Linked DNA regions of Homo sapiens: all the other regions are linked to region 5. Evidence: fine-mapped expression QTL. A gene starts in region 5. Each other region holds a variant in brackets. All regions are shown on one strand. Distances are from middle to middle. Region 1 has its middle 85 kb from the start of SERPIND1. Region 2 overlaps CRKL (CRK like proto-oncogene, adaptor protein). Region 3 has its middle 130 kb from the start of MED15. Region 4 overlaps CRKL (CRK like proto-oncogene, adaptor protein). Region 5 holds the start of SNAP29 (synaptosome associated protein 29). Region 6 overlaps PI4KA (phosphatidylinositol 4-kinase alpha).

The links. PIP is the estimated chance that this variant, and not a neighbour inherited with it, causes the effect.
Region 1: its variant is fine-mapped to the expression of SNAP29 in subcutaneous fat (GTEx, PIP 0.98).
Region 2: its variant is fine-mapped to the expression of SNAP29 in whole blood (TOPMed, PIP above 0.99).
Region 3: its variant is fine-mapped to the expression of SNAP29 in uterus (GTEx, PIP 0.98).
Region 4: its variant is fine-mapped to the expression of SNAP29 in whole blood (INTERVAL, PIP above 0.99).
Region 6: its variant is fine-mapped to the expression of SNAP29 in prefrontal cortex (ROSMAP, PIP 0.95).

Annotation. Positions count from the first base shown.
Region 1 is chr22:20,686,747-20,691,855 of GRCh38, forward strand. It overlaps the pseudogene POM121L4P. Among named protein-coding and RNA genes, the nearest start is that of SERPIND1, 85 kb to the right of the region's middle. RefSeq lists a silencer at 196-416. The variant G/A (reference allele first, on the strand shown) is at 2,359.
Region 2 is chr22:20,941,266-20,946,374 of GRCh38, forward strand. The region is part of intron 2 of CRKL (CRK like proto-oncogene, adaptor protein); the gene reads left to right. Among named protein-coding and RNA genes, the nearest start is that of LINC01637, 13 kb to the right of the region's middle. The variant C/CA (reference allele first, on the strand shown) is at 2,804.
Region 3 is chr22:20,636,444-20,641,552 of GRCh38, forward strand. It overlaps the pseudogene LOC100421121. Among named protein-coding and RNA genes, the nearest start is that of MED15, 130 kb to the left of the region's middle. The variant T/C (reference allele first, on the strand shown) is at 2,217.
Region 4 is chr22:20,947,511-20,952,510 of GRCh38, forward strand. CRKL (CRK like proto-oncogene, adaptor protein) reads left to right here. Exons shown (of 3, transcript NM_005207.4): 3 at 2,201-5,000. The coding sequence ends at 2,335. Among named protein-coding and RNA genes, the nearest start is that of LINC01637, 7.1 kb to the right of the region's middle. RefSeq lists enhancers at 4,009-4,510, 4,511-5,000. The variant C/T (reference allele first, on the strand shown) is at 2,020.
Region 5 is chr22:20,856,670-20,861,770 of GRCh38, forward strand. SNAP29 (synaptosome associated protein 29) reads left to right here and starts at 2,338. Exons shown (of 5, transcript NM_004782.4): 1 at 2,338-2,678. The coding sequence starts at 2,442. It overlaps PI4KA (phosphatidylinositol 4-kinase alpha), which reads right to left and starts at 2,142. Exons shown (of 55, transcript NM_058004.4): 1 at 1,901-2,142. The coding sequence starts at 2,056. RefSeq lists silencers at 1,751-1,800, 1,821-2,580 and an enhancer at 2,260-3,069.
Region 6 is chr22:20,743,539-20,748,538 of GRCh38, forward strand. PI4KA (phosphatidylinositol 4-kinase alpha) reads right to left here. Exons shown (of 55, transcript NM_058004.4): 29 at 4,045-4,164; 30 at 1,090-1,182. Among named protein-coding and RNA genes, the nearest start is that of SERPIND1, 28 kb to the right of the region's middle. RefSeq lists a silencer at 1,765-1,814. The variant CA/C (reference allele first, on the strand shown) is at 2,500.

The sequences.
Region 1 (5,109 bases), 170 kb before region 5:
AAACCCCAACTCTACTAAAAATACAAAAATTAGCTGGGTGTGGTAGAACATGCTTGTAACCCCAGCTACTTGGGAGGCTGAGGCGGGAGAATCACTTGAACCTGGGAGGCGGAGGTTGCAGTGAGCCGAGATCGCGTGACTGCAACAGAGAAATTCTGTCTCAAAAGAAAAATATAACTTCATAAAAACAAAGTAGGGAGAAGCAGAAAAGTTTGTCTAGATCTAGAACCATTAAAGGAATTGAATGTTTATTTTAAAATCTGTATCCCGGCCGGGTGCGGTGGCTCACGCCTGTAATCCCAGCACTCTGGGAGGCCGAGGTGGGCGGATCACAAGGTCAGGAGATCGAGACCATCCTGGCTAACACGGTGAAACCCCATCTCTACTAAAAATACAAAAAATTAGCCGGCCCTGGTGGCGGGTGCCTGTAGTCCCAGCTACTCCAGAGGCTGAGGCAGGAGAACGGCGTGAACCCGGGAGGCGGAGGTGGCAGTGAGCCGAGGTGGTGCCACTGCACTCCAGCCTGGGCAACAGAGCAAGACTCCGTCTCAAAAAAAAAAAAAAATCTGTATCCCATCCCCTCAAAAATCTCACAAAAAAACAAAACCAAAGAAAAGCACCAGGCCCAGATGATTTTATGGACAGCAAACATTAAAAAGAACATAAAGTTTTTATCTTCTACATAATTTTTAAAAATTAATTATTTATTTTTGACAGGAAGTCTCGCTTTGTAGCCCAGGCTGGAGTGCAGTGGCGCGATCTCGGCACACCGCAACCTCCGCCTCCCGGGTTCAAGTGATTCTCCTGCCTCAGCCACACCAGTAGCTGGGACTACAGCCGCGTGCCACCATGTCTGGTTAATTTTTGTATTTTAGTAGAGACAGGGTTTCACTATGTTGGCCAGGCTGGTCTCCAACTCCTGATCTCGTGATCCGCCCGCCCCAATCTCCCAAAGTGCTGGGATGTGTGAGCCGCCACGCCTGGCCACTACTTTTTCTTTTCTTTGTGTGTTTTTTTTTTTTTTTTTTTTTTTTTGGTGTGTGTGTGTGTGAGATGGAGTTTCCCTCTTGTTGCCCAGGCTAGAGTGCAATGGTGCGATCTCAGTTCACTGCAATCCCCGCCTCAGCAGGAGAGCAGGAATCTTCAGTGATCCACTGGCGGATCTGCAGCCATTGTGCGCGCCAGGTCTTCCCAAGTCTTTTGTGCGCGCGCCTCTCCTTCCAGTACCTATCAAGCCAGCGTCCCCTAGCCTCCCGCCATTGCCAGCAGGTGCTGAGATCGCGCCATTGCACTCCAGCCTGGGAGACAACAGCGAAACTCCGTCTCAAAATTAAAAAAAAAAGGATGAAAATTTTGGAAAAATATGGAAGAAACCAAATGGATTTCTAGCTCAACTAAATCGTAATTATTCAGTGTCTAGTTTTTGCAAGAAACCATATATTTCATGTCCACAATCGGCCACAGTCCCAGCTCTCAAGTGTAGGTCTTTCCTAAGCAAATTGAAGAACACAGGCATAAAAGTGCATTAAGTCAATAAACATTTTTCTCTGTGTCTCTCTCTCTCTTTTTTTTTTTTTTTTTTTGAGACGGAGGTTCGCACTGTCACCCAGGCTGGAGTGCAGTGGTGAGATCTCGGGTGACTGCAAGCTCCGCCTCCCGAGTTCACGCCATTCTCCTGCCTCAGCCTCCAGAGTAGCTGGGACTACAGGCGCCCGCCACCACGCCCGGCTAATTTTTTGTAGTTTTAGTAGAGACGGGGTTTCGCTATGTTGGCCAGGCTGGTCTCCAACTCCTGACCTCGTGATCCACCCGCCTCCGCCTCCCAAAGTGCCACAGCCCCGGCCTTTTTTTTTTTAAGACAGAGTCTCGGCCGGGCGCGGTGGCTCACGCCTTTAATCCCAGCACTTTGGGAGGCCGAGGCGGGCGGATCACGAGGTCAGGAGGTCGAGGCCATCCTGGCTAACACGGTGAAACCCCGTCTCTACTAAAAATACAAAAAAGCAGCCGGGTGTGGTGGCGGGCGCCTGTAGTCCGAGCTACTCCCGAGGCTGAGGCAGGAGAATGGCGTGAACCCGGTAGGCGGAGCTTGCGGTGAGCCCAGAGATCAGGCCACTGGAATCCAGCCTGGGCGACAGAGGGAGACTCCGTCTCAAAAAAAAAAAAAGAAAAAAAAAAAAGACTCTGACTCTGTTGCCCAGGTTGGAGTGCAGTGGCGCGATCTCGGCGCATCGCAATCCCTTCCCAGCCCCCGGGTTCAAGTGATTCTCCAGTCTCAGCCGCCGGAGTAGCTGGGACTACAGGCGCGTGCCACCATGTCTGACTAAATTTGTATTTTTACTAGAAAGGGGGTTTCACTAT[G/A]TTGGCCAGGCTGGTCTCCAACTCCTGATCTCGTGATCCGTCCGCCCCGACCTCCCAAAGTGCTAGGATTATAGGCATAAGCCGCCACGCCCGGCCTTTTGTTTTTCTTTTTCTTTTTTTTATTTGAAGACTGAGTTTTGCACTTGTTGCCCAGGCTGGAGTGCAATGGTGCGATCTCAGCTCACTGCAATCTCCACCTCAGCAGGAGAGCAGGAATCTTCAGTGATCCACGGGCAGATCTGCCGCCATTGTGGGCACCTGTTCCTCCCGCGACCTTTGTGCCCGCCTCTCTCCTTCCAGTACCTATTGCATGACCCCCCACGTCCGCCTCCCGCCATTGCCAGCAAGTGCCTCGCGCGGGTACCTGGCTGCGCTTATTAATCCGTTAAGCTCGCTCTGTCACGGGCGCCGTGATGTGCTCACGCGCCCGCTCCCTCAGGTTTAAAAGGCGCGTTGCCCGGCAACAGAAGAAACTGCTGGCTTAGCCGTTGGCCGAGTTGGCGGCTGGACGAGGACGCTCAGAGCCCAGCTCTCGAGAGTTCAAGCAACCGACGGTTCCCCACTGCTCCCAGGAGCGGTTACCTGGGCACTCTGTGCCCCTCCTTCCTGTTCGGGCCCAGGCCGAGGACCTGCCAGTAGGGCTCAGTTGCCTGGAGCCCGTTCAGCCCATCCCCCAGTTCACTTTGCCTGTGGGATCTCCCCGTTGCTCCTGCCCGTGGACTGAGTGGCAGGCCATCCTACAAGCACCCGGACACTTGACATCCGTGGTGTCAAGACAACTCTAAGAAGGTTTTCCGTGATCCTGCAAGCCCTGCCTTCCTTTCTGGGATCCTGCCTTCAATTTGATTGCACAGGTACCACAGCAAGCCAGTGCTGTGTGCTCCGAGTTCCAGGGCGTCCTCCAGCTCAGCCACTGCACTGAGAACATGGACTCTCTGTGGGGCCCAGGAGCTGGGAGTCACCCCTTTGGGGTCCACAACAGCCGGCTGTCCCCAGACTTGTGTCCAGGGAAGATAGTGTTGAGGGCCCTCAAGGAGAGCGGGGCAGGGATGCCTGAGCAGGACAAGGACCCTAGAGTCCAAGAGAATCCTGGTGATCAGAGAAGGGTCCCCGAGGTCACCGGGGATGCACCGTCTGCATTTCGGCCCCTGCGGGACAATGGAGGCCTCTCTCCCTTTGTGCCCGGGCCCGGGCCTCTGCAGACAGACCTCCATGCCCAGAGGTCAGAAATCAGATATGACCAGTCATCCCAGACCTCCTGGACGAGCTCGTGCACCAACCGAAATGCCATCTCCAGCTCCTACAGCTCCACGGGAGGCTTGCCGGGGCTAAAGCGGAGGAGGGGGCCAGCCTCATCCCACTGCCAGCTGACCCTCAGTTCCTCAAAGACAGTGAGTGAGGACAGGCCTCAGGCTGTCTCTTCGGGTCACACCCAGTGTGAAAAGGTGGCAGAGAAAGCACCAGGGCAGACACTCGCCCTCAGGAATGACTCCTCCAGATCCGAGGCCTCTAGGCCCAGTACACGCAAGTTTCCCCTGCTGCCACACAGGCGAGGGGAGCCTTTGATGCTGCCACCTCCCGTAGAGCTGGGGTACCGGGTCACTGCTGAAGACCTGGACTGGGAGAAGGAGGCGGCATTCCAGTGCATCAAGAGTGCACTGCAGGTTGAGGACAAGGCCATCTCAGACTGCAGACCCTCACGGCCTTCCCACACTTTGTCCTCACTTGCAACAGGGGCTTCTGGTCTGCCTGCCGTTTCTAAAGCACCCAGTATGGATGCACAGCAGGAGAGACACAAGTCCCAAGACTGCCTGGGCCTAGTGGCCCCCCTAGCATCTGCTACAGAGGTCCCCTCTACAGCTCCCATGTCTGGGGAGAAGCACAGACCACCAGGCCCCCTGTTCTCCTCCTCAGATCCCCTTCCTGCCACCTCTTCCCACTCCCAGGACTCAGCCCAGGTCACCTCGCTGATTCCTGCCCCCTTCCCAGCTGCAAGCATGGATGCGGGCATGAGAAGAACAAGGCCTGGCACTTCTGCTCCTGCAGCTGCCGCAGCAGCCCCTCCCCCCTCCACATTGAACCGCACATTGGGGTCACTATTGGAGTGGATGGAGGCCCTTCACATTTCTGGGCCTCAGCCACAGCTGCAGCAGGTGCCCAGAGGTCAGAACCAGAGATCCCAGACCTCCCGGACCAGCTCGTGCCCCAAACGAAATGCCATCTCGAGCTCCTGCAGCTCTACGGGAGACCTCCCGGGACGAAAGCGGAAGAGGCGCCAGCCTCATCCCACTGCCAGCTGACCCTCAGTTCCTCAAACACAGTGAGTGAGGACGGACCTGAGGCTGTCTCTTCGGGTCACACCCAGTGTGAAAAGACGGCAGATACAGCACCAGGGCAGACACTCGGCCCCAGGGGTGGCTCCCCCAGATCCCAGTCCTCTAGGCCCCGTAGACACAAGTTTCCCCTGCTGCCACGCAGGCGAGGGGAGCCTTTGATGCTGCCACCTCCCTTAGAGCTGGGGTACTGGGTCACTGCTGAAGACCTGGACCGGGAGAAGGAGGCGGCATTCCAGCGCATCAACAGTGCACTGCAGGTTGAGGACAAGGCCATCTCGGACTGCAGACCCTCACGGCCTTCCCACACTTTGTCCTCACTTGCTACAGGGGCTTCTGGTCTGCCTGCCATTTCTAAAGCACCCAGTATGGATGCACAGCAGGAGAGACACAAGTCCTAAGACTGTCTGGGCCTAGT
Region 2 (5,109 bases), 85 kb after region 5:
GATGTCTGGTGCCCGAGGAATCATTTCCACTTGCCTCCTTGGACCTTTCATCAGGACTGACCAGGATCCTCCTCCACCCTTCTGTCTTTGACATTGTGTCAGTTGTCCTTCACAGCATCTCAGCTTTATTTCTTTAGTACCAAAAGTGCTTTTTTTCCTTGACTATAATACCATGCAAATGTAGGAATCTTTAGAAAGTCCTTTAGAATATTCTCGTATTTAAAAATATATACATATGTGTGTTTGTGTATGTGTATATATATATATATTTTATGTGTGTGTGTGTGTGTGTGTGTGTGTGTGTGTGTGTGTGTATATATATATTTTTTTTTTTTTTTTTTTTTTTTGAGATAGAGTCTTGCTCTGTCACCCAGGCTGGAGTGCAGTGGCATGATATCAGCTCACTGCAACCTCTGCCTCCCGGGTTCAAGCAGTTCTCTGCCTCAGCCTCCCGAGTAGCTGGGATTACAGGTGCCCGCCACCAGGCCGGGCTAGTTTTTGTATTTCTAGTAGAGATGGGGTTTCACCACCTTGGCTAGGCTGCTCTTGAACTCCTGACAACGTGAGCCACTGCACCCGGCCCAGAAAAAAATATTTTTAAAAGGTTTTTGTTCCTCTTTCCTAATGTGTAAATTAAGTCAGAATGCCATGGAATTGGGGCCCTGGTGTGGTTCAGGCAGGGCCTGTCCCATCCTGGTCATTAGGCTGACCTCTGTTTTCTGTGATAGCTGTTCTCTGGTGATAGCTGTTGAGTAAGAAGAACCATCAGCTAGGGGTTCACAGAGAGAAGTTTATTCTCATGACTGCTCCCACACTAAGAGCTTGAGGTTTATATAGTTTGCCAACTATCTACCTTCTGTCTATGAATTTACCTATTCTACCTACCTGATATAAGTAAAATGATACAATATTTGTCCTTTGGGTCTGAATTATTTCATTGGGTACAATGTTTTCAGAGTTCATCCAGATTGTAGCATATATCAAAACTTCATTTCTTGTCCCAGCATGGGGTGACTCACACCTGTAATCCCAGTGCTTTGAAAGGCCAAGGTGGGAAGATCACTTGAGGCAAGGAGTTTGAGACCAGCCTGGGCAACATAGTGAGACTCCATCTGTACAGGAAATTATGATAAAGACTTCATTCCTTTAGGGCTGAATAATATTCCATTGTTATGTATATATCACGTTTTGTTAATCCATTTATCTCTTGATGGATACTTGAGTTGTTTTCGTTATTTTGGCTATGGTGAATAATGCTGCAGTGGACATTGACACACAAATGTTTGAGTCCTTGCTTTCAGTTATTTTGGTTATATATCTCAGAGTGGATTTCTGGGTCAAATGGGTAATTCTGTGTTTAGCTTTTTTTTTTTGAAACGGAGTTTTGCTCTGTTGCCCAGGCTGGAGTGCAGTGGCACCATCTCGGCTCACTGCAACCTCCATCTCCTGGGTTCAAGCGATTTCTCCTGCCTCAGCCTCCTGAGTAGCTGGGATTATAGGCACGTGCCACCACACCTGGCTAATTTTTGTATTTTTTAGTAGAGACAGGGTTTTGCCATGTTAGCCAGGCTTTGAACTCCTGACCTCAACTGATCGCTCACCTCAGCCTCCCAAAGTGCTGGGATTATAGGCATGAGCCTCCTATGTTTAGCTTTTTGAGGAACTGTCAAACTATTTTCCATAGCAGCTGTACCATATTCCATTCCAACCAGCAGTATATAAGGGCTCCCTTCTTCACCGCCAAAAAAAAATTCTTCCACATCCTCATCAACACTTGTTATTTTCCATATTTTTTATTATAGCCATCCTAGTAGGTGTGAAGTGGTATGTCATTGTGGTTTTGATTTGCATGTTCCTAGTGACTGATGTTGAGCATCTTTTCATATTGGCTTTTGGCAAATCTTTGGATAAATATTTTCAAGTTCTTTGCCCATTTTTTAATTGGGTTATTTGAGCGTTTTTGTTTTTTATTTTGTTTTATATTTTTTGAGACAGAGTCTCACTCTGTCGCCCTGGCTGGAGTACAATGGCACTCACGATCTCGACTCACTGCAACTTCTGCCTTCCAGATTCAAGCAATTCTCCTGCCTCAGCCTCCCAAATAGCCAGGATTACAGGCACTCACCACCATACCCCGCTAATTTTTTGTATTTTTAGTAGAGATGGGGTTTTACCATGTTGGCCAGGCTCTTCTGGACTCCTAAAGTGAGGTGATCCACCTGCCTTGGCCTCCCAAAGTGCCAGGATTACAGGCGTGCGCCACCATGCCTGACCTTAGTTATTGTATTTAGGCTGTTGATCCATTTTAAATGACTTTTTGTGTATAGTGTGAGGTAAGGTTTCAGAGTCTTTCTTTTGCATGTGGAAATTGGTGCAGTTGTCCCAGCAAGGTTATTCTTTCCCTGTTGAATAGACTTGGCACCCTAGTCAAAAATCAGTTGGCCAAGCTGGGTGTGGTGGTGCACACCTGTAATCCCAGGTACCCTGGAGACTGAGGTGAGAAGATTGCTTGAGCCTAGGAGTTGAAGATCAGCCTGGGCTACATAGTGAGACTCCCACGTGTTAAAAAAAAATCACTTGATCATAAATGTGTGGGTTTATTTTTGACCTCTGAGTTCTATTCCATTGTTCTATATGTCTCTCCATATGCCAGCACCACACTGTTGATTACTATAGCTTTTTGTAGTAATTTTGAAGTCAAGGAAGTGTAAGTCCTCTAACTTTGATGCTTTTCAAGGTTGTTTTGGCTATTCAGGTTCCTCGCAATTCTATATGAATTTGAGGATTGGTTTTCCCATTGCTG[C/CA]AAAAAAAAAGGCTGTTAGAATTTTGATAGGGATTGTGTTGTATTTGTAGATCACTTTGGGTAGTATTAGCTTTTTTTTTTTTTTTTTTTTTAATTTCTTTTATGAGGCAGGGTCTCACTATGTTGCCCAGACTGGTCTCAAACTCCTGGGCTCAAGTGATCCTCCTGTCTCAGCCTCCCAAAGTGCTGGCATTACAGGTGTGAGCCACTGCACCTAGCCAATATTAATATCTTAATCATAAGTCTTTCCATCCATTAACACAAATGTTTTTGCATTTATTTAGGTCTTTAATAATTTTTGGTATGCAAGTGTTTCACCATGGTTAAATTATTCTCGTTTTGTTTTGTTTTGTTTAGACAGAGTCTTGGCTTTGTCACCAGGCTGGAGTGCAGTGGTGCAATCTCGGCTCACTGCAACCTCCACCTCCCTGGTTCAAGCGATTCTCCTGCCTCAGCCTCCCAAGTAGCTGGGACTACAGACATGCGCCACCATGCCCAGCTAATTTTTGTATTTTTAGTAGAGATGGGGTTTCACTATGTTGGCCAGGATGGTCTCGATCTCTTGACCTCGTGATCCACCTGCCTCGGCCTCCCAAAGTGCTGGGATTACAGGCATGAGCCACCGCACAGCCTATTCTTGGATATTTTTATTTTAGATGCTATTGTAAATGGAATCACTTTTTTTTTTTTCTTCTTGGAGACAGAGCCTCACTCCCGCTCCATTGCCCAGGCTAGAGTGCAGTGGCACAATTCTTGTGCCTCAGCCTCCTGAGTAGCTGGGACTACAGGTGCCTGCCACCACGCCCAGCTAACTTTTTTTTGTATTTTAGTAGAATTGGGGTTTTACCATGTTGCCCAGCATGATCTTGGCGCCTCCCAAAGTGCTAGGATTCAGGCATGAGCTACCGTGCCCTGCCTGGAATTACTTTCTTTCTTTTTTTTTGGGATGGAGTTTCGCTCTATCACCCGGGCTGGAGTGCAGTGGTGTGATCTTGGCTCACTGCAAGCGCCACCTCCCGGGTGCACGCCATTCTCCTGACTCAGCCTCCCAAGTAGCTGGGACTACAGGCGCCTCCTACCACGCCCGGCTAATTTTTTGTATTTTTAGTAGAGACGGGGTTTCACGGTATTAGCCAGGATGGTCTCGATCTCCTGACCTCCTGATCTGCCTGCCTCGGCCTCCCAAAGTGCTGGGATTACAGGCATGAGCCACCGCACCCGGCTTGGAATTACTTTCTTAATTATTCATTACCAATATATAAGACGCAACTGATATCTATGTGTTGATCTCGTACCCTGCGACTTTGCTGAATTTGTATCTTTTCTTATATATATGATCGTGTCTTGACTTCCTCTTTTCCAAAAGCCCACATACTCTTGTACCACAGCATACTGGCCTGTGATACCTTTAGCCCCGCCCCCTACCTTTCCCAAATAAAATCTCTGTGTTAACCAGTAAACAGCCCTCTTGAATCAAGTTACTACTCTGAAGGATAGTGGTAATTTTAAGAAAGAGACCAAGTCTTCAGTATTAAAACCCTATTAGATAGCATTCAGTTGTGGGTTTGAGTGTATGAGATTACTTGACTGCTAGCCAGGGCACACAGACAGGGAGCCTAGCCCTCTTAAAGCCTCTATCTCTCTGGCTACTCTGATTCAGGTGCAGGTGCACAGAGAACACAGGGGCAGGCAGTGGACCCATGCAGCTCCGTGAGGGCCAGGGGTGTTTGTCTCCTTTGTGTCCTCTGTTGTATCTCTTCACGGCCTACACATAGATGTTCAATATTTGTTGAATGACTAGAGGAATAAAAGCCACAGAGAGCAGGATGATACCTGTCTGGTGATTATAGTACATGGGCTTTGTTTTGTTTTAGATATTTTGGGGGCTATAAGCCCCTTTGAGAATCCAGTGAAAGTTGTGCAGTCTTCAGAAAAACAGCATACATTCATGTATTTGCATACAACTTCGCAGGATGTTCTTTGATCACTGAGACCCATTCACATCACTCAAGTTAGAATTTATGATTCCAGTGTCACCAGTGTACTCCTGATCTTACTTTTATGTAACCTGAAAGCATACAATCTCAGCCTATCAGTACAGGGAGCGGAGACTGATTATGGAACCAAAAAACTGCTGTGACGACCAGTGCTTGGGCCCTCCAGTGCGTTGACTGCTCTTTGAATCAAGTGCCAGATGCCAGTCAGTAGAGTCATTTCCTGGACAACACTCTGGACAAGTAGGGCTGTAGGAAACTATTGCCAGCAGCAAGAGGTACCCTCTTGCCATTTAACTCTTGGTAGACATA
Region 3 (5,109 bases), 220 kb before region 5:
CACAGAGCTGGGGCCATCAGATGCCCCATGTCCACTCTGAGGACAGAGTAGCCCATGGTTAGGATGACCCACCAGCCAGGCCTGGCCAGGGCACCCACAGGAGACAGGAAGGCTGTGAGGGCCCGGGGGCACGGAGCAGCTCTGAAAGGAAGGGGTGCTGGGTCCCGGGGCTCCTGGGCAGAGTGGTTGAAGAAGGTGAGACCCCAGACCAGCCAGATGGGCCCACTTCTCAGGGGACCCTGGTCAGACAAGGGAGCACCTCCTGCTCATGGAACACAGCAAGGGGCAAGGTAGGCACAGCCAGGCTCGGAGAACTCGTATTTGGGGGAGATGTAAATCAACCCAATAGACAAGGGAGCGATGTGGTGTAGGAGATGGGGTTTGTGCTGGGGAGAAATAAGGCAGAGAGTGGGGAGTAGAGAGCACCTGTCTGGGGTCTCAGGAGGAGCGATGTCCCAAGACTGGAGGCGGCCAGGGGCTGAGGAGCCCTGACTGGGCCAGGCCTGTGGCTGGAGCTGGAGGCTCGGGTTCAGCCTCAGTTTCCCCTCTGTGAAGCTAGGTTCATAATAATGGAAATTGACTTTCTGGGTGGCTGGAGAGACATTCAGATGGAAAATGGATATTCTATTTTGTCTCTGTCCTTGGTTGTTGTCATCTCAGGCTGTTCCAGCCCCAGTTAGCCTCGGGTCAGCCCCCTGCCCATGTTGGTCTCCCCATGAGCTCAGGCACCTCATCCCCAGCACAGCTGGCCTGGAGAAACCAAGATTCCCTGAGGCTTAAAATAGCTGGAAAGCCAGCCCAGCTGCAGGTGCCTCCCTGTAGGATAAAATGTAGGAGAAGATCTTCAGGAGCTAGGACTAGGCAAAATTTTCTTAGACTTGACACCAAAAACATAGTCTACAAAAGGAAAAATTGCTAAGCTAAGTTTCATCAAAATTTAAAAATTTGTTCTGCAAAACACCTTGTTAAAAAGATGACAAGTTACAGACTAGGAGAAAATATTTTCAAACAACATATATGAACAAAGCACTGTTATCTTGAGTATATAAGGAACTTGCAAACTCCACACAAAAAATCAAACAATCCAATTAGAAGATGGGCAAAAGACACGAGCAGACATTTCACCAGAGATGATACACAATGGACAAATAAGCCCATGAAAAGATCTTCAACTTCACTAGCCATTTGGGAAATGCAAATTAAAACCACAATGAAATATAATTTACACACATCAGAGTGGCTAAAATAAAAAATAGTGACAAGACAAAACTCTGCTGAAGATATAAGTGTGAATCACTCATATATTGCTGGTGGGCATATAAAATACCACAGCCACTGCAAAAGTGTGGCAGTCTCTTTTTTCTCTTTAGAGACAGGGTCTCCCTATATTGCCCAGGCTGGACTCAAATTCCTGGGCTAAAGTGATCCTCTCGCCTCAGCCTCCAGAGTAGCTGGGACTAAAGGCACATGCTACTGTTGATGTTTGGCAGTTTCTTATACGACTGAACATGGAACTACCGTATGACCTAGCAATTACATTCTGACTCATCTATCCCAGAGAAATGACAACCTGTGCTCATACAAACAACCGTACGTGAATGTTCATTACAGCTTTAATAGCAATAGCCAAAAATCTAGAAATAACTCAGCCATCCATCAGCAGGTGAACAGTTAAACTGTGCTACATCCATCTTATGGAATAGCACTCAGCCATCCAAAGGAATCAACTCTTGATACACTCAACCAGCTCAACCCTCCCCAGAACGCACCTGGGTGGGAAGGTGCACAGCAGATTGGGCCACTAGATTTACCCAGTGTGGAGGAAACAGGTACCTCCTCCTAGATTTTGTTCTTGGCAGAGATAAACCAGTGCTTCTCAGTCATTTTTGCTTTTTACTAGCCATGGGAGGTATTTTCCAGTAAAGGCTTCTATGACCAAATGCATTTGAAGGAATGTTCCATATGCTCTCCCACACGCCTTCAATTTCCTGAGAGTGACAAGAATACCAGAATAGCCAAGGTTCTAAGATATCCTTCAGGATACCTGTTTAACTTAAACTTCCCCAAACTATTTGATTATGAGACTCTTTTCAAGCATAAACATTTTCCTTCCAGGAACATTTGTATTCTTATAAGAAAATATTAGAAAGCATTCCAGGTGACTTACCTAATGGGAGAACCTCAGGCGCCAAGCCAGATGAGATAAAAGTTTCAAA[T/C]AGTGCTGATAAGGTTTTCTTGGTTCAGCTGCCTCCCTCCAACTCAGCTGCTGTCACACTTCTAGGCAGTTTTGACTGGACTGTAAATTCCTTCTGGCTGGGGCCATGTCTCAGCACCTTGTGCAGGAGTGATACAAACTAATGCTTCATAATAAATACTTACTCACTGACTTTCTCTTTATTCATCCCAGGTGAGCATGTTTTCCATCCCCTTCAATCTCCACACTCACGGGCAAAAGTGAGTTGTGGGTCTTGGAACTCTCAAGAAGAGGAGGAGATCTTCAATTTGCATATGCAGAATCCAAACAAGTCATCTTGAGTCCCCACAAGTAGGTGGGCTTATTTCTCACATAACAAAATCGCCCCTCCTTTGCAGCCTCTACACCACTGCAGATCAAGCCCAGCTAAACCTTGCTGTGCTATCCTGAAGGTATTGCTCCCAGATCCCGGCTGTCAGCTCCTGTCCAGCATCACAGGGCAAGTCCAGAGACATGATCATGTAATTGACCAGGGATGACAAGTGGGTCCTCTCAGTGGACAGGTGTCTGCAGTAGGTAAGCCCTGTCAGGAGAGGAAAGAAAAGCATCATCATCTACCACCTGATACCCTTTGCCCTGTCTTATGGAGTCCCCAAAGTGCTGTCCCACACTCCCATCTTTATTTTTTTATTTTTCTGAGACGGTCTCGCTGTCACCCAGGCTGGAGTGCAGTGGCGTGATCATGGCTCACTTCAGCCTAAGCCTCCCGTGCTCGAGCAATCCTCCCATCTCAGCCTCCTGAGTAGCTGGGACTACAGGCATGTGCCATCATGCTCAGCTACTTTTTAACCCCTCCTTTTCTTCACAAGGAAGGCAAGGCTTGATGTCACTTGCTGGCTGAATGGCTTAATAGCTCTACAACCCTAGGGAAGTCTTATCACCTTGCTCAGCCACAGTCAGGGTGATGCCATCCTCCTCTGCTGGAAGCCAAAACATTTAATTGATAGGCTGGAGGCAGAGAAGGGACAGGAAAGAAGGTGGCCAATGACTCTGTGGCCTTGCTGTGCCTTTGTCTGCCTCCAATCCATACACAGAGAAAGACACTGTGAGATGTGGACAACTTTCTTTCAAATATCAGCTGAATACAGGTATTCATCCAAAAGAAAGGAAATCAGTACATCAAACAGTTATCTGCATGCCCATGTTTACTGCAGCACCATTAACGATAGTACAAAATCAACCTATGTGTGGAGGAATAGTACAGAATCAACCTAAGTGTCCATCAATGAATTGACAGTTAAAGGAAATGTGGTATATGTATGCAATGGAATATTACTCAGCCATGAAAAAGGATGAAATCCTGTCACGTGCAGTAACATGAATGGAACTGAAAATCATTATGTTAAGTAAAAAAAGTGAGGCACAGAAAGACAAATATCACATGTTCTCAGTCATACATGGAAGCTAAAAAAGTATTTCTCATGAATGCGGAGAGTAGACTGGTGGTTACCAGTGGCTGGGAAGGGAAGAGTAGGAGGGGAATGAAGAGAAGTTGGTTAATGGTACAAAAATCCAGTTAGATGGAATTAAGTTCTTGTATATTATAGTAGGAAAAATATAATTAACAGTAATTTATTGTATATCTCAAAATAGCTAGAAGAACTGTAAAGTTCCCAACATGAAGAAAACATAAATGTTTGAGGTGATGGATGTTCCAATCACCTCAAACGTGATAGATCAATACGCAGTGGATCTATCAAAATACTACATGCACCCCCAAAATATGTACAACTACAGTATATCTATTACAAATTTTTTTAAAAAGAGGGCCGGCCGGGCACAGTGGCTCACGCCTGTAATCCCAGTGCTTTAAGAGGCTGAGGTGGGTGGATTGCTTGAACCCAGGAGTTCTGGACTAGCCTGGGCAACACAGTGAAACCCAGACTCTACAAAAAATAAGCAAACTTAGCTGGGTGTGGTGGCGTGTGCCTGCAGTCTCAGCTACTTGGGAGGCTAAGGTGGGAGGATTGCTTAAGCCTAGGAGGTCAAGGCTGCAGTGAGCCAAGATCTTGTCTCTAAAAAATAAAATCGGCTGGGCGTGGTGGCTCACGCCTGTAATCCCAGCACTTTGGGAGGCCGAGGCCGGTGGATTGCCTGAGGTCAGCCATCCTGGCCAACATGGTGAAACCCCGTCTCTACCAAAAACACAAAAATTAGCCGGGCATGGTGGCACACCCCTGTAATCCCAGCTACTTGGGAGGCTGAGGCAGGAGAATTGCTTGAGCCTGGGAGGCAGAGGTTGCAGTGAGCCGAGATCGCGCCACTGCACTCCAGCCTGATTGACAGAATGAAACTCTGTCTCAAAATAAATAAATAAATAAATAAAACAAAATCAGATAAAAATAAAACAAAATTGCAGCTGGATTAAAAAGGCCCCAGTAAGTCAGGAACCAGGGAGAGAGATACTGAGGGGGCAGCTTGCTTTCAATGATGGTCCTGCCTCAAAAGCACACCTACCAATGTGCCACCCCTTATCTGTCACACCCTGTCACCTGGAGGGTGTTAGGCAAAGTGCCTCAGCAAACGCCAGCCCGTGCTGTTTGCTCTGGCTGTGCCCTTTCCTTCTGGCGTTCCCCAGCCATTTCATCCTCAATTCCCAGTGAGAACCCTGGACATTTTGCAGCCTGGGGACTAAATTCTAACAGGAGGGTCAATCATAGCAATGATGATGATGATGATGACCACGATGATCTAATAGCTAATACTTACACAGTACACACTATGTGCCAGGGAGCTGTTAGCAGAGTTTGCATAACTCAGTCTCGCCACAACCCAAGAAAGCAGGCGCTACTGTTATTTCCATCTTATGGATGGGGTAAGTTGAGGCCCAGACTGGTTATGTCACTTGCACAAGT
Region 4 (5,000 bases), 91 kb after region 5:
GTATTTTTCAGTAGAGATGAGGTTTTGCCGTGTTGGCCATGCTGGTCTCGAACTCCTGACCTCAGGTGATCCATCTGCCTTGGCCTCCCAAAGTGTTGGGATTACAGATGTGAGCCACTGCGCCTAGGCTTTTTCTTTTCTTTTCTTTTCTTTTTTCTTTTTTTCATTTTTTTTTTTTTTTTTTTTTGAGACAGGGTCTTGCTCTGTCACCCAGGCTGGAGTGCAGTAGTGTGATCACAGCTTACTGCACCCCTGCAACCTCTGCCTCCTGCGCTTAAACGATCTTCGCACCTCATTCTCCCAAGTAGCTGGGACTGCAGGTGCATGCCACCACGCCTGGCTCATTTTTGTATTTTAGAGACAGGGTTTCACTGTGTTGCCCAGGCTGGTCTTGAACTCCTGGGCTCAAGTGATCCACCCACTTCAGCTTCCCAAAGTGCTGGGATTACAGGTGTGAGCCACTGCGCCCGGCCACTTTGTGCTTTTCACACTATGTTATTATCTGACAAAGATTCATTGTGTATCCCACTCAAAAGACAGAAGTTTTTTAAGGATACGAACTGACCTGCCCATTTTCCATGGAGTAGATGTTCAGTAAATTTATTTAATTGATTAGGTAGGATCATGTAGAAAGTATCCTGTTGAAGACCGCCAGACTCACAAGTTAATTGGAAGGCGTGAGGTGTGAGTGTTCTTGGCAGCTTTCAATCCTTAGCCTCATCTTTAATCTTCCCGTAGTCTTCTTTGGCTGCTTAGTATCCATCACAGTCATTTATTAGACCCCGTTTTCAGCCTGTTCCTCATTGGTTTTGAGAGGACCCTTGTTGGTGACAAGGTTGGAAATCCTCTGATATATACAGTGTTGTGCTTCTCAGTGCTAATTCCAGCTCTTCCCTTCGTGCATCCAAAGGGTATGATCATTAGAGGGGGCGTGGGGTTGGGGGATGGGTTCTATTCAGGAATCTCTACTCAAGTAACAATCATTTAATTACTGCAAGAACCTTTCAAAGTTGGAAGGAAACTGAGACTTGGAGAACTTAAGCAGTTTGCTACAGTCATGTAGTTTCTAAAAGTGGCAGAACCAGGACATTTGTTTGGTGTCCTGCATGCTCCAAAGTTCATGGCACGGACCATTGGACTGTGCCATAAAAACCTTATGCCTGTTTTTATTTTGAGATGTAGTCTTGCTGCGTTGCGCCGGCTGGTCTCAAACTCCTGGGCTCAAGCAGTCCTCCCACCTCAGTCTGCCAAGGACCTGGAACTAGAGGCATGTACCACGATGCCTGGTTCTATATGTGTTTAAGCAGACAAAAGCTTATTTCTTATTGTCTTAGATCTTAGGTGGGTCTTATATTCAAGTAGCGTTTTTATGGACCTAAGTACACAATACAGAACCTTAGATTAGTGCTCTGCTGAACAGAGTAACACCCTGTCTACAATGACTACCACCTGAAGGTCTTTTTTTAAAATACACCTTTTTGTGTAATTTGACTTTAACCATTCTCAGAATCATGTGTTCATTTCTATCCTGTTGGGGTTAGTGGCCAAAATAGAAGGTTGGTGTGGGGTGGGGAGCTGCTTTGTGCTCAAAAGCTGTTTCTGTGTGTGTGTGTGTTTTGATTTTTGTTTTTTTGAGACAGGGTCTCACTCGGTTGCCCAGTCTGGGGTGCCGTGGCACTATCACGGCTCACTGCAGCCTCAGCCTCATGGGCTCAAGCCATCCTCTCACTTCAGCCTCCTGAGTAGTTGGGACTGCAGTCATGTACCACCACACCCGGCTAATTTTTCTATTTTTTAGAAGAGATGAGGTTTCACCATGTTGCCCAGGCTGGTCTCGAACTCCTGACCTCAAGTAATCCCAGGAGTTCAAGGTTACAATGAGCTGTAATCGGGCCACTGCATTCCAGCCTGGGCGACAGACCCCGTCTATAAAAAATTAAAAAATAATGTGCATGGTGGTGCACGCCTGTAGTCACAGCTATTCAAGAGGTGGAGGTGGAAGGATCACTTGAGCCCAGG[C/T]GTTAGAGGTTACATTGAGCAGGGATCTCACCACTACACTCCAGCATGGCTAACAGAGTGAGACCCTGTGTCTAAATAATAATGTATGGGCCCTTTGGATAAGGTAGTGTTTGTGATTTAATGTAAACTGTCTTTTTCTTGTTGCAGAGAAATGCTAACTTTGTCTTCTTCATCCATACAGGTTGGTGACATCGTGAAAGTCACAAGGATGAATATAAATGGCCAGTGGGAAGGCGAAGTGAACGGGCGCAAAGGGCTTTTCCCCTTTACGCACGTCAAAATCTTTGACCCTCAAAACCCAGATGAAAACGAGTGATTGCTGTTGCCCTGTTTCCTGCTGCTTTGTTGTTCTGCCTGTCCTAGTCTCCTTTGAAGTGGGAAAGCATTTTCTCTCATAGGCAAGTCACACTGCATTGCCGAAGTCCAGCTTTCTGCAGACTGGCAGTCGCACACACATTTGGAATGCACACAGCGGCTGCCTCCTGATGTTTGTATCATAGTCGTATTGTCAAAGAGTAGCCGATTTTAGAGTTCTTTTGGATCATAAACTGGAAATACTGATGGAAGCACACAAGTGGAGAGAAGTTGACATGGAAAGGGTCTTCCTTCTCATTGCTGCCCGTTTGTACATGGGACTGATTCTGTTGTGTTCACCAGAGAAAGCTTGAGGCCATGGCGAGATACTGCATGTTTGCTGTTCCACAAAGCAGTGGCTTAGCTGCCATCTTGCTTTTCTTTGGACAACAGGAAGTGAACCTTAAGGAAGAGAGAATTCTGTTCTAAAACTCCAAAATCTGGCTTTTTTTTTTCTTTTGTTTTGGTTTGGTTTTGGAAAACTAATTAATTAGACTTGTGTGGGGGTTTTTTTTTGTTTTGTTTTGTTTGTTTTGTTTTGTTTTTTTGAGACGGTGTCTCGCTGCATCACCCAGGCTGGAGTGCAGTGGCGCAATCTCGCCTTCCTGCAGTCTCCGCCTCCTGAGTTCAAGCGATTCTCCTGCCTCAGCCTCCCAAGTAGCTGGGACTGCAGGCGCGCACACCACGCCCAGCTAATTTTTGTATTTTTAGTAGAGACGGGGTTTCATCATGTTGACCAGGCTGGTCTCAAACTCCTGACTTCAGGTGATCCACCCGCCTTCAGCCTCCCAACGTGCTGGGATTACAGCCGTGAGCCGCCGCGCCTGGCCTAGACTTGTGTGTTCTAAACAGGTTAAGTAGCAGGTTGGGTTTTTATGATAGTGCAAGGAATGACTCATGCCTCTGAGCTTCTAAACTGAAGCTGCTGTAACTAAAGGAATCTGAAAAGAACAACCCTGAAGCAGAGGCCTTTATTGTCTTGGTTGCCAGTAGTACCTTGTTTTGCCATGTAGCAGACAACACACAAAATAATGCAGTTGTGGTGTGCCATGCTATGTGCACAGCCCCTTGGATTACTTTGTTTTAAAAAGCATCAGAGTTGGGGGTACTTTAGGGAAACCTTTGCTTACCTTGTTTTGCCAGTGATAAGAGCAGTGGGTTGGAGGGCACTTGGCCAGTTTTCTGTTCAGCTTTTCAGTGAATGTACCCCTTTAAGGTTCAGACTTAAACTTCCTTAAAAAGTGGCGTTGTTCATAGAATCGTTGGACTCATTAATGAATCGTTCAACTCCACTCACTGAAGCCCAGACCTCCGTGCCCAGGCCCAATCTCGTCAGGCTGCCAGAGAAAGTTGGTGCTGCTCATACTGGTCTCACAGTCTAAGTAAGTGTCTGTGATGCTCCCAAGCAAAGGAAATGCAAGCTCTGGAAATTCGTTAATGTATTTGATGTCTTAGTGTTTTAGTGACTAGGGAGACCATTAACTAGTTTATCATTAACCACTTATCAGTGTATTGATGTTAAAGCATTTCCCTGTTAGCTAAAAGAGGCCTGTTCATACAAGCCAACTGGTATATACGTGTGGTTCATCCATCATCTGCTGCACATAGCAGACTAGAATTCTGGGAACCCTGTGCAATTCAGTCTGCTCTCCCTTGTGGACCCTGGTAAAGAAAAGCCTCAGCTCATAGTGAACACAGCAGACCTAGAAATGTAGCAGCAGCCTACTGAGTAGCTTTCATTTACTGATCATCTGCTGTGACTGTGGCCCTGTCTGGAGGTTCCTAGGTTTTGAGATTTAGAGCAATGCATTCTGGAGACAGAACCAGCAGAACAGCCATTTTTCAATTTTTCTTTAAATCAGTATTCCATCAGGCAGATAACTGCTGTATTCATGAATCTTGAGAGTGTTCCTGAGACAGAATTAATGGTCATTTGGGAAAACTATCGCCATGGCTTCCCATCTGTGGTTTTCCTCTAAAAGCCTTGGAGATTAGCCCTTCCTTGCCAGTGAGAACGGTGACCGCCTCCTGCTCTGCACGGTCTGCGGCAGTTGCCGCTTCTGGTTAGGTGTGTCAGGTTGGCTTATTTTGGGTTCAGGCCTGGCGTAGCACCCACAAGTGGCAGACATATCACAAGAGTCCCCAGACTCTGCCTAGAAACAGTGTTTGCCCTTTGGCCAGTGACGTGGTTCATCCCGGCCCATGTTGAGCCATGAGTGGAGTTTCCAACAGAGGGAGGAATGTGTGCCTTGTTCAAGGAGGGCACGACCCTTAGGCCTTTTTCAACCAGATTTAGCTGAAGGGCTTGACACCTTTGAATTACAGCAGTTGACTCAGAGTGCAAGAAGTCTGGCCATTTTGGAAAGCAAGGTTTCCTTTCAGCCCTGTCTACTGACCAATACCCCGACTCACCTTGTGTGGCGCACTTCAGAATCAGATATACCTAGAGTATACCTGTGGTTTGGTTTTATAATTAATCAGCTCGTTACTTCAGCCCATGAAAATGGCATCCAGGGCTGCCAGGAGATTCAGAGCTCAAAACAAGGCGAGCTTGAGTTCTGCACTCCAGATATGTGCCAAAACTAGTAAAACTTAACGGACTTACAACCTTGTCAGTTTTTTTAATG
Region 5 (5,101 bases):
TGATCTGCCTGTCTCAGCCTCCCAAAGTGCTGGGATTACAGGCATGAGCCACCGTGCCCCATCATAAAATATAATCTTGACAACTGAAGCAGTTATTACTACAAAGCTAAGAATGTTGCAATTACAGAATGTTCTCGTGACTAGTGAACATGGCTGAAGAAGCAAATTGAGCTCAAGGTGCCCTTTTCTGAGTTACTGAGTGGAAAGGGTGCTACCACTGCTGGAGCTGCAGGACCAGCTTCTTAAAGATCATCCAATTCACTGCATTCTCTTCTCTCTCCTCCCAGAATCCAGCAATCAGTCATAAGATATATTTGTTGGCTCTCCTGCTAAGAAGCGAATGTGCTGACTAGCTAGCATGAGTTTGATTCAATAAAACAGCACTACACTCCATTAGTCAGACTATCTAATGATAACAGTGCTCATACATTAGGTACCCACGTGCCTTTTTGTTGCTCTTCACAATACTCCTATGAAGTACTACCTTGTATTTGACAGAAGATAGCAAAGTATCAGAGAAGGGAACTGACCTGTCTAGAGTCACACTAGTGAAAGCAAGTGATACAGGATTTAAATTCAGAGGTTCCATTTTCCAAACTCATGTCCTTTCCATTGCATTGTACTCCCTCTTTAGCTAGAAGTCAGGTTAGCACCAATCTGCCGGGACCTTCTCACCCCGAAGGTGCATGATAAAATCAAATATGAGAACCGACAAGGCCAAGGACCAGGTCACTCTGCCAAAAGTGCCTAAAACAGCCTTTCAGCTTCATCCATCAGCAGACAGCCACAAAACCACTCCCAACTGCAGCAGGCTGGTCTCCGGTCACCACTGTCTTATCTTGTCGGAAAACATCCTCTCTCCATGTGCCAAAAAGTTGAGTGGGAAAATAATTCCATCCTTTCAGAGCTAAACACTGTGCTGAGTCTCATCGCACACGGGTGGGCAAAGAAAGTTGACATTTACTGCTCACCCACTCTGTGCCTTGACCTGTGCAAGATGCTTTATGCTAGAACTCATTTAATTCTCAAGAACAACCTCATTTTACAGATAAGGATACAGAGGCTCTAAGAGTTAAATTTACCCAAGAGGACATGGTAAGTAAGTGCCAGTGCAGGGAACAAATTCAGGTCCCACTCTAAAATCTGTCTCTTTCCAGATCTCAAGGCACACCACTGAGTTGCCTTTCACCTTTCTCCCAAGATGAGGATTGCTCTGGCATGACTTCACCTTTCTCTTCTGAAGCAATTCCAAGTTCACTTCTCTGCCCACTGACAGTTCACTCTCCTTTCCCTGCCACTGTCCCTTCTGCAAACGCACAATCTTTTACCCAACCTAACGCCCCCAGCCTCGTAGAATAACACTGCGCAGTTGGTTTACAGTCACAAAGCACTTTCAAGACAGTGTTTCGTCTCCTGGTCACCACAGTCCGGTGAAGCCGGCAAAGCAGATAAAAGCATCCCCATTTTACAAGAAAGCCATCTTCCCAAGGTCGCGGAATAAAAAGCAGGTGAAATCGGAAGCAGAACCCCAGGTCTTGACCCCTGGTCCTCGGCTCATCCCACTGCTCCGCACAGCCGCCCACGATCCAGCCTCCACCTCCGCGATGTCACAAGATGCTCCCTGGGCCAGCAGCTCACATCCCCCACCCCCATCCCACAACCACCCACCTGCAGCGGCCCTGCAGGCCCCGCCGACCCTTCCCCCACGGTCCCTCTCTCTTCACCAGCCCCTCCCACTAGGGCCTCCTTCCCCCGCTAGATCCCTCCGCTCAGGCGCCCCCTCCCGCACAGGCTGCCGGCGAGCCCAGCCTCGGCCTCCCACAGACCCTCGTCCCGCCTCCACGCTTCGTCACCCCAGCCCCTCCTCCTGTCAGCCCGCGGCCCAGCCCGCCGACGTTACCTTCTCCAAGGATGCTGGTCTCTGCACCGCCAGGGAGCGGGCCAGTGACAGGACCGTGTTGAAATAGAAGCCCCGCGAGGCGCTGGAGCCGGAGCCGGAGCAGCCGCCGCCGCCTCCGCCTCCGCCTCCGCCTCCCCGGGCCGGGGCCGCCGCCATCACCTCACGAGCCGCGGCGCTGCCCGCCGGCTCCCCGCTCCTGGCCCGCGAGCGCCCGACCTCAGGGCGCAGGCGTAGGTGCATCCGGCTTTCCCGCCACGTGACCTCTCAGTTGCTGACACTAGATAGGGCGTGGCTGCGGGGCGGGCCCACCGCTGCAGGGGAGAGAGGGGATGGACAGTAGGCTGCGGTTGCGCGCGCCGGATGTGGGCCCCCCCCAGCCGACCTGCGCGATGGTCGGCTCCGAGGGCGGGGCCACCTGCGCGCGACGCGCGGAAGGAGTTCGCGCGACGACCGCGGGGTCGGCGGGCGGGGCGAGGCCCTGGACGGCGGCGGCAGTGGGGCTCCTCCTTCTGTTTCCCAGACCGAGAGCCGCGCCGGCACCATGTCAGCTTACCCTAAAAGCTACAATCCGTTCGACGACGACGGGGAGGACGAAGGCGCCCGGCCGGCCCCTTGGAGGGACGCCCGAGACCTCCCCGACGGGCCCGACGCGCCCGCGGACAGGCAGCAGTACTTGCGGCAGGAGGTCCTCCGCAGGGCTGAGGCCACGGCCGCCAGCACCAGCAGGTCCCTGGCCCTCATGTACGAGTCCGAGAAGGTTGGGGTCGCCTCTTCCGAGGTGAGCCTGGGGCAGGGCTGGTGTGGACTCGCCGGTCTCTGTGCTGTCAAACGGAGACGAGAAATGTTTTGCTCACAATCTTTTGAGAATTCTCAAGTTGCCTAGCATAGATTCTTGCACCTTAGTGACTCGATGGTGGTAACAATCTGTTAACTATGTAAAGGTATGTGCATCTGGAGTACTTGAAGAGGGCAGTTTACCCCAGAAATCTTCCTTAGCTATTAGTCTGCTTCGTTGATTTTTTTTTTCTTACGCCTAGCTCACGGGGAAACGCCAGATTATTTTCTGTCCAGGTGAGTAAAAATTCTGAACAGCAGGTCCTAGGTTTGGGAAATGGAGAGTCCGTTTCTTCGACATTATTTCCTGTGCAAAATCTGGCACAGGGTTTTGGCCATTCCTTCCGGAGTGAGCCAGAAAGAGAGGACTATGTGCCTGCGAGTGTCAGGTGATACCCTGAAGCATCAGGGCAGGTGGTCCACGAGTTCTTCCCGCATCATTGACATCTCCACCTAACCAACCAATAGAGGTATTGAAGTCCCTTCAGCCCAGACAGCTGCCTAGTTGACCAAAGCCTGGGTTTGATTGAGTCCAGGGTCTTACCTTTACTTCCCAAATCCTAGACAAATAGTGTGCGGGTTAAGAGTTTGTTGCTCCAACTCATCTTCATCAGTTCTTCCCATCCTTAGATTTCAGAGAGTAGTACCTTCAATAACAATTATTCTGGCCGAGCGCAGTGACTCACGCCTGTAATCCCAGCACTTTGGGAGGCCTAGGCGTCGGATCGCCTGAGCTCAGGAGTTCGAGACCCGCCTGGGCAACATGGTGAAACCCTGTCTCCACTAAAATTAAAAAAAAAAAAAAACTAGCCGGGTGTGGCGGTGCGCCTGTAGTCGCAGCTACTCAGGAGGCTGAGGTAGGAGAATCGCTTGTACCCGGGAGGCAGAGGTTGCAGTTAGCTGAGATCGTGCTGCTGCACTCCAGCATGGGCAACAGACCGAGATCCTGGAGGGTCTTTTTCTTTTTCTTTTTTTTTTTTTTTTGAGATGGAATCTCGCTCTGTCGCCCTTGCTTGGGTACAGTGGCATGATCTGGGCTCACTGCAACTTCCGCCTCCGGGATTCAGACGATTCTCCTGCCTCAGCCTCCCGAGTAGCTGGGACTACAGGTGCGCCGCCACACCCGGCTAATTTTTTTTGTATTTGTAGTGGAGACAGGGTTTTGCCCCGTTGGCCAGGCTGGTCTGGAACTCCTGACCTCAGGCAGTCCGCCCGCTTTGGCCTCCCAAAGGGCTGGGATTACAGGCGTGAGCCACCATACCGGTCGAGAATGATTCTTTATTGTACACCACAGTCTCTCTTCAGCCTGCTAATGAAACAGTTTTGTTTGGACAGAGAAAAAAAAAGGTTTAAAAAAATGTATAAGCCAGGCGCGGTTGTACTTCTGTAATCCCAACAATTTGTAAGGCTGAGGTAGGCAGATCATTTTAGCCCAGGAGTTTGAGACCAGCAGGGGTAACTGCGTCTCTACAAAATTTGAAAAATTAGCCAGGCATGGTGGCACACACATGTGAGTGCAGCTACTGAGGAGGCTGAGGCAGGAGGACCGCTTGAGCCCAGGATGTCAAGGTTGCAGTGAGCCATGTTCATACCACTGCACTCCAGCTTGGGCGACAGAGCAACACGCTATCATTTCCCCTTGCTGTTTTCTTGGGTTAATTCCCTTCCCCACCTCTCTCTGTTCATGTATCCCTCATTGATCCACCTCCCTGTGGTTTTTTTTTTTTTTTTTTGAGACAGATTCTCGCTCTGTCACCAGACTGGAGTGCAGTGGCACCAACTTGGCTCACTACAGCCTCCGCCTCCTGGGTTCAAGTGATTCTCCTGCCTCAGCCTCCTGAGTAGCTGGGACTAAGGCGTGCACTACCACACCCAGCTAATTTTGGTATTAATAGAGTTGGGGTTTTGCCATGTTGGCCAGGATGGTCTCGATCTCTTGACCTCGTGATCCACCACCTCGGCCTCCCAAAGTCCTGGGATTATAGGCGTGAGCCACTGCACCTAGCCCACCTCCCTGTGTTTAACTGTTGGTTTTTTATTTTTGTTTTGTTTGAGACAAAGTCTTACTCTGTCACCCAGGCTGGAGTGCGATGGTGTGATCTCGGCTCACTGCAACCTCCACCTCCCCAGTTCAAATGATTCTCCTGCCTCAACCTCCCAAGTAGCTGGGATTAGAGGCACCTGCTACAACACCTGGCTAATTTTTTTGTTTTTGTTTTTGTTTTTGTTTTTTTGGTGTTTTTTGTTTTTGAGACGGAGTCTTGCTCTGTCTCCCAGGCTAGAGTTCAGTGGCGCGATCTCAGCTCACTGCTACCTCTGCCTCCCAGGTCAAGCGATTCTCCTGCCTCAACCTCCTGAGTAGCTGGG
Region 6 (5,000 bases), 110 kb before region 5:
TCGAACTCCTGGGCTCAGGTGATCCTCCTGTCTCAGCCTCCCAAAGTGCTGGGATTACTGGCGTGAGCCACTGTGCTTGGCCAACCTATCTATTTTTAAAGACAAATATAACTTTTTTTTCCAGAGAGAAGAACATACAAGTGACAGAGTGCTAAGAAGGAGTGAACTCCCACTCAGACCAGGCCACTGATAGACTTTCAGAGTCACCAGGGAGCTTAGAAATGGCATAGACTAGGCTGGGCGCGGTGGCTCACGCCTGTAATCCCAGCAGTTTGGGAGGCCGAGGCGGGCAGATCATGAGGTCAGGAGATCAAGACCGTCCTGGCTAACACAGTGAAACCCCGTCTCCACTAAAAATACAAAAAATTAGCCGGGCGTGGTGGTGGGTGCCTGTAGTCCCAGCTACTCGGGAGGCTGAGGCAGGAGAATGGCGTGAACCCAGGAGGCAGAGCTTGCAGTGAGCCAAGATTGTGCCACTGCACTCCAGCCTGGGCAACAGAACGAGACTCTGTCTCAAAAACAAAAACAAAAACAAACAAACAAAAAGAAATGGTATAGATTAGCTTCTGAGTTTATGGAGCAGGAAATGGAGGCCCACAGATGTGATGGCACTGGTGAGGCTGGAATAAACTGTGGTGTGGTGGGTGAAAGCCCACGATGTGGAGTTGGAAGATGTGGTTCCAGACCCCACTCCACTTGTGCGACTTTGGCAAGTTACTTAATCTTGGGAACCTCCGTTTATCTATAAAACTGGAATAATAATACATACATCTTACCGAGTGCCCAAGAGCCTATGGCATGTAAGTGTTTGTTACTGCTGTAAAAAAAAGCCAAAAAAATTAAAAACCTTCATTCAGTGTAGCCAAAGTGTACACAGAGTTACCCTCTTGTGGAAAAAACAAGTAACTGGTCATTAACACTCTGGAATGTGCCAAGAATCCTCCTAAAATGTGCTCTTTAAATCCTCCTAAAATATGTTAATTCCACATCACCGGGACGCTTTGTTCATTTTCCACTAGGAAGCGGCCAACAGGCCTCAAAACAAGAGGACACGTTAAAGGCCCTAGGGCGCAAGGACAAGAGAAGCACCTCGCCCGCGTAGCGGTTGCGCAGATTCAGGGATGCCATGAAGTTGGAGTAGTCTTTCTTCACACAGGCCGGGCGCTCGCTCAGCTGAGTTGCCTACAGACAGATAACCATTATTGTAGACTATGGCAGCACTATCCTTTCCTCGTGTTTACCATGGCTAAGCCTAAACCCAATGAAGCAGTCACACTCGGGTCTGGGGGTTACTATTAATAAAAATCTTCACTGCTGGCAAGTTAATAAAGCAAAATATTTTAGAATACCCAGCAGTTTGATATGTTCCATAAGAAATTAAAAAAAAAAGTCTCTGGAAGGCAGTTTCTGCTACTGGTAAATAGGCCTTTGCAAGAAAAAGAATCACTAGATTGTGAGAGCAATGTCACCTGTGATGGAAACGCCATGAAAGCATTCACAGCCGTCTCCTTGAGAGTTGCGTGTGCAGCTTATAAATGTCACTTACAGACCGTAAAGGGGCTGAAGGGGAGAGCCAAGGCCAGCAGGCTCTTAAACATCTGCTGGCTGCTCTTCAGTCTAATGGGAAGAGACAGAAAAGGGTACACCTTGAATACAAAGGCAACCCACAGAATGGGAGAAAAATATTTGAAAACTACCGCCCACCCACTCCACCCCTCCAGCCACTCTCTCTGCTTCAGCCTCAGCCTCCCAGCCCCAGGGCCTCAGTGACCTGGCTTCCTAACCCAGGCTGGCTGCTGTGCCACACCTTTCAGTTCCTGTTCATCCACGGTCACTGCAGAGTACAGCATGCATTGAAAAGGACCTCCTTTCGCATTTCCCTTTAGCATCAGTACTAATGGGGAAAGTGAGCTTCTCAACTGTTTTGAGTTTAGAGGGATTTTTTTTTGAGGGGACATGGTGTGGAGAAAGAGGACCAGGAGAAGAAAATACAGATGTTGGGGAACATCAAAATATAAACAAGAACAAAAATACATGATTTCTCTCATGAAATTATTAAACTGGTTTATTTAAAAAAATAAATTACGTGAAACTGCTTTACATTTTCTGGAAACAATGCGGTCTTTGGCACCAAGCAGGACTGAGTTAGAGCTTGGCTCTGATACTAATCAGCTGTGAGACCTTGGGAAGTCAATGTCTCTGAGCCTCAATGTGCTCATCTGTAAAGTGGGCATAACCCTCTCACAATGTTGTTACACGTTCAACGTAATGACACACACAATGTCCTGGCATGGCAAACAGCACCTGGTGGGCAGTGCAGGCCGGCTCCCTCCCTTCCACCATCACTCCTCACTGCCCAATGCGATCTCGGCTCACTGCAGCCTCCACCTCCCTGGTTCAAGTGATTCTCCTGCCTCAGCCTCCCGAGTAGCTGGGATTACAGGTGCATGTCACCACGCCTGGCTAATTTTTGTATTTTTACTAGAGATGGGGTTTCAT[CA/C]AAAAAAAAAAAAAAAAAAAGAATTTTTTTTTTTTTTTTTTTGAGATGGAGTCTTGCTCTGTTGCCCAGGCTGGAGTGCAGTGGCGGGATCTCGGCTCACTGCAAGCTCCGCCTCCCGGGTTCACACCATTCTCCTGCCTCAGCCTCCCAAGTAGCTGGGACTACAGGCGCCTGCCACCATGCCCGGCTAATTTTTTGTATTTTTAGTAGAGACGGGGTTTCACCGTGTTGGCCAGGATGGTCTCGATCCACTGACCTCGTGATCCGCCCGCCTTGGCCTCCCAAAGTGCTGGGATTACAGGCATGAGCCACCGTGCCTGGCCCCAGAATTAATTTTTAAAAATTAAAAAAAATAACTTAGAGAAAACCTAACTTACATCAAATTTTCTGGGGAAAAAGAACAAAATATTTTAGGCAAAACAGATCTTTCACAAGTCAGCTGGCTAGAGTCTAGAAAAGGCTTACAAATGAGAACACATATTCTATTTTATGTAATAAAGCTTTGCTCCTACCACCCCCAAAAAGGAAAAGGCTTATGACTATCATAAACACTTACAGTCTATGAGTTCCGCCTCTGGCCTCTGTGGCCACCCAGTGGCAGAGACGTCCAGGTCAGGGCACTGATACCTGGTGCCCCGTCAGAGTAGGAGGCCCAGGGCGGGTGGCCCTGCAGGTGCAGGCTGGACCCAGCTCAACCATGTCTGCTAGACTGGTGTCTTTAGAGATAGTGCAGTGACCTCGAGGAGAGTGCCCTGATAGCAAAATGAGGCGAGAAGACACCAGCATTCTCTGGCACATCCTCAGGCCCCACAAAAGCCAGAGGGCACTCAGGCCCCTCTCTCCCGCCGGTATCCCAAGGGAGGCCTGTCACCCTTCCTCCTGGGTACACAGCCTCTGCACCTCCACATATCCCATCCCATGCTCCATTTGGAGAGAGTTGGGAAGCACACATGGCCAGGCTCTAGATTCACATTAACCAACAAAATCTCTGACCAGCCCCAGTCACATGGCCAGGTGGAACTGCCTGCTTTAATCCTTTTTAACTCTTAGCTCTAATTTAACTCAGAAAGTATTGCTGTGTGAACCCTCTGTCCTCTAGATTAATCTCTAGCAGAACAAGAAGCTGAAGGCATTCATGTGCGGTTCAGCACCTGCAGAAAACAGAACTGTTCAGGAGTCCAGTATACGCTCCAGATAAGTGCAACTGTGGCATCGCGCTGCCCGTGTCAGGCGGAGCTCTGTTTCCATCCTCTCAGATGGGGACATTCAAATCAAAATCTGATCACTGACATATCAAGCACTGATCCCCATAAATCCATAAATTTAAAAAAAAAAAAGCACAATAAGGAAACACTCATTTCAATGGCCACCTCTTCTTTGGGCCAAGGTGCGGCTTGCACCACTACCATTGTCAACAGACATCCACAGCACCCTGCATGTACTCATGTGCGTCATGAAAAGCGACAGCCGAGCTCTAAGCCTTCCCCTGCACTGTGGCTCCTATGGTCTAAGGGGTCACTGCTCTTCAGAAGGCTCGCACATACCCCAAGAGTTGTGTTCTGCTTGTTGTAGCCAGCAAAGTGAAGGATGCTCTCAGTGGCCATGGCCAGCCCCGTGTGCTGGGACAGTCCCGATACCCAGTTCTGATGTTTGTTCAGATATTCCTGAAATAGGAAAAACACATGGGGTTTCAGTTATTTATCTGATTTTTTTAGAGGCAGGGTCTCGCTCTGTCACCCAGGCTGGAGTGTGGTGGCACGATCATGGCTCATTGCAGCCTCGACCTCTTAGACTCAAGCCATCCTCCCGCCTCAGCTTCCCAAGTAGCTGGGACTATAGGGGCACGCCACTATGCCTGGCTAATTTTGCAATTTTTTTTGTAGAGATGGTGTCTCACTATATTGCTCAGGTTGGCTTGAATTCCTGGGCTCAAGTGATCCTCCCGCCTCAGCATCCCAAAATGTCAGGATTACAGGCATGAGCCACTGTGCCTGGCCTTGCTATTTCATTTAAAGGGGAAAATAAAACTTTATAAATTAAGGTGTGGGCAAATGGACCAAACACTGGGTTTCTGTCCTGGGTCTGCCCCTCCCTAACTAGCTGTGGGACTGTCAGTAAGTCAAAGCCCCTCTATGACCAGCTACTGCTCATTTGACTGAGGACAAGGCCAATTCCCCGAGCGGCTGTCATGCAGTCACTGCGGTGTTGCACCGTCAATGGGAGAGGGCCATTTATTCTTTCAGCACATCCTTGCTGAGCATCTGCTGTGGTAGCCACCAGGCAAATAAGCTACAAAGCCTTGGCCTTGCGGTCAACAGGCAGGCTGTGTGGTGTGGAGCCTCGGTTCTCTACTGCAGCATACCAGCAGCCTGGTGTGGGTGAACTGGACAGCAGGAACGAAGAACAACACCTGTGTCCACCTGGCCACCCAGTGGGAGAAGGGTGCTGGGCAATGGGATACCTGGCAGAGCCCAGGGGTGTGAGGGAGGCCTCCTGCTCT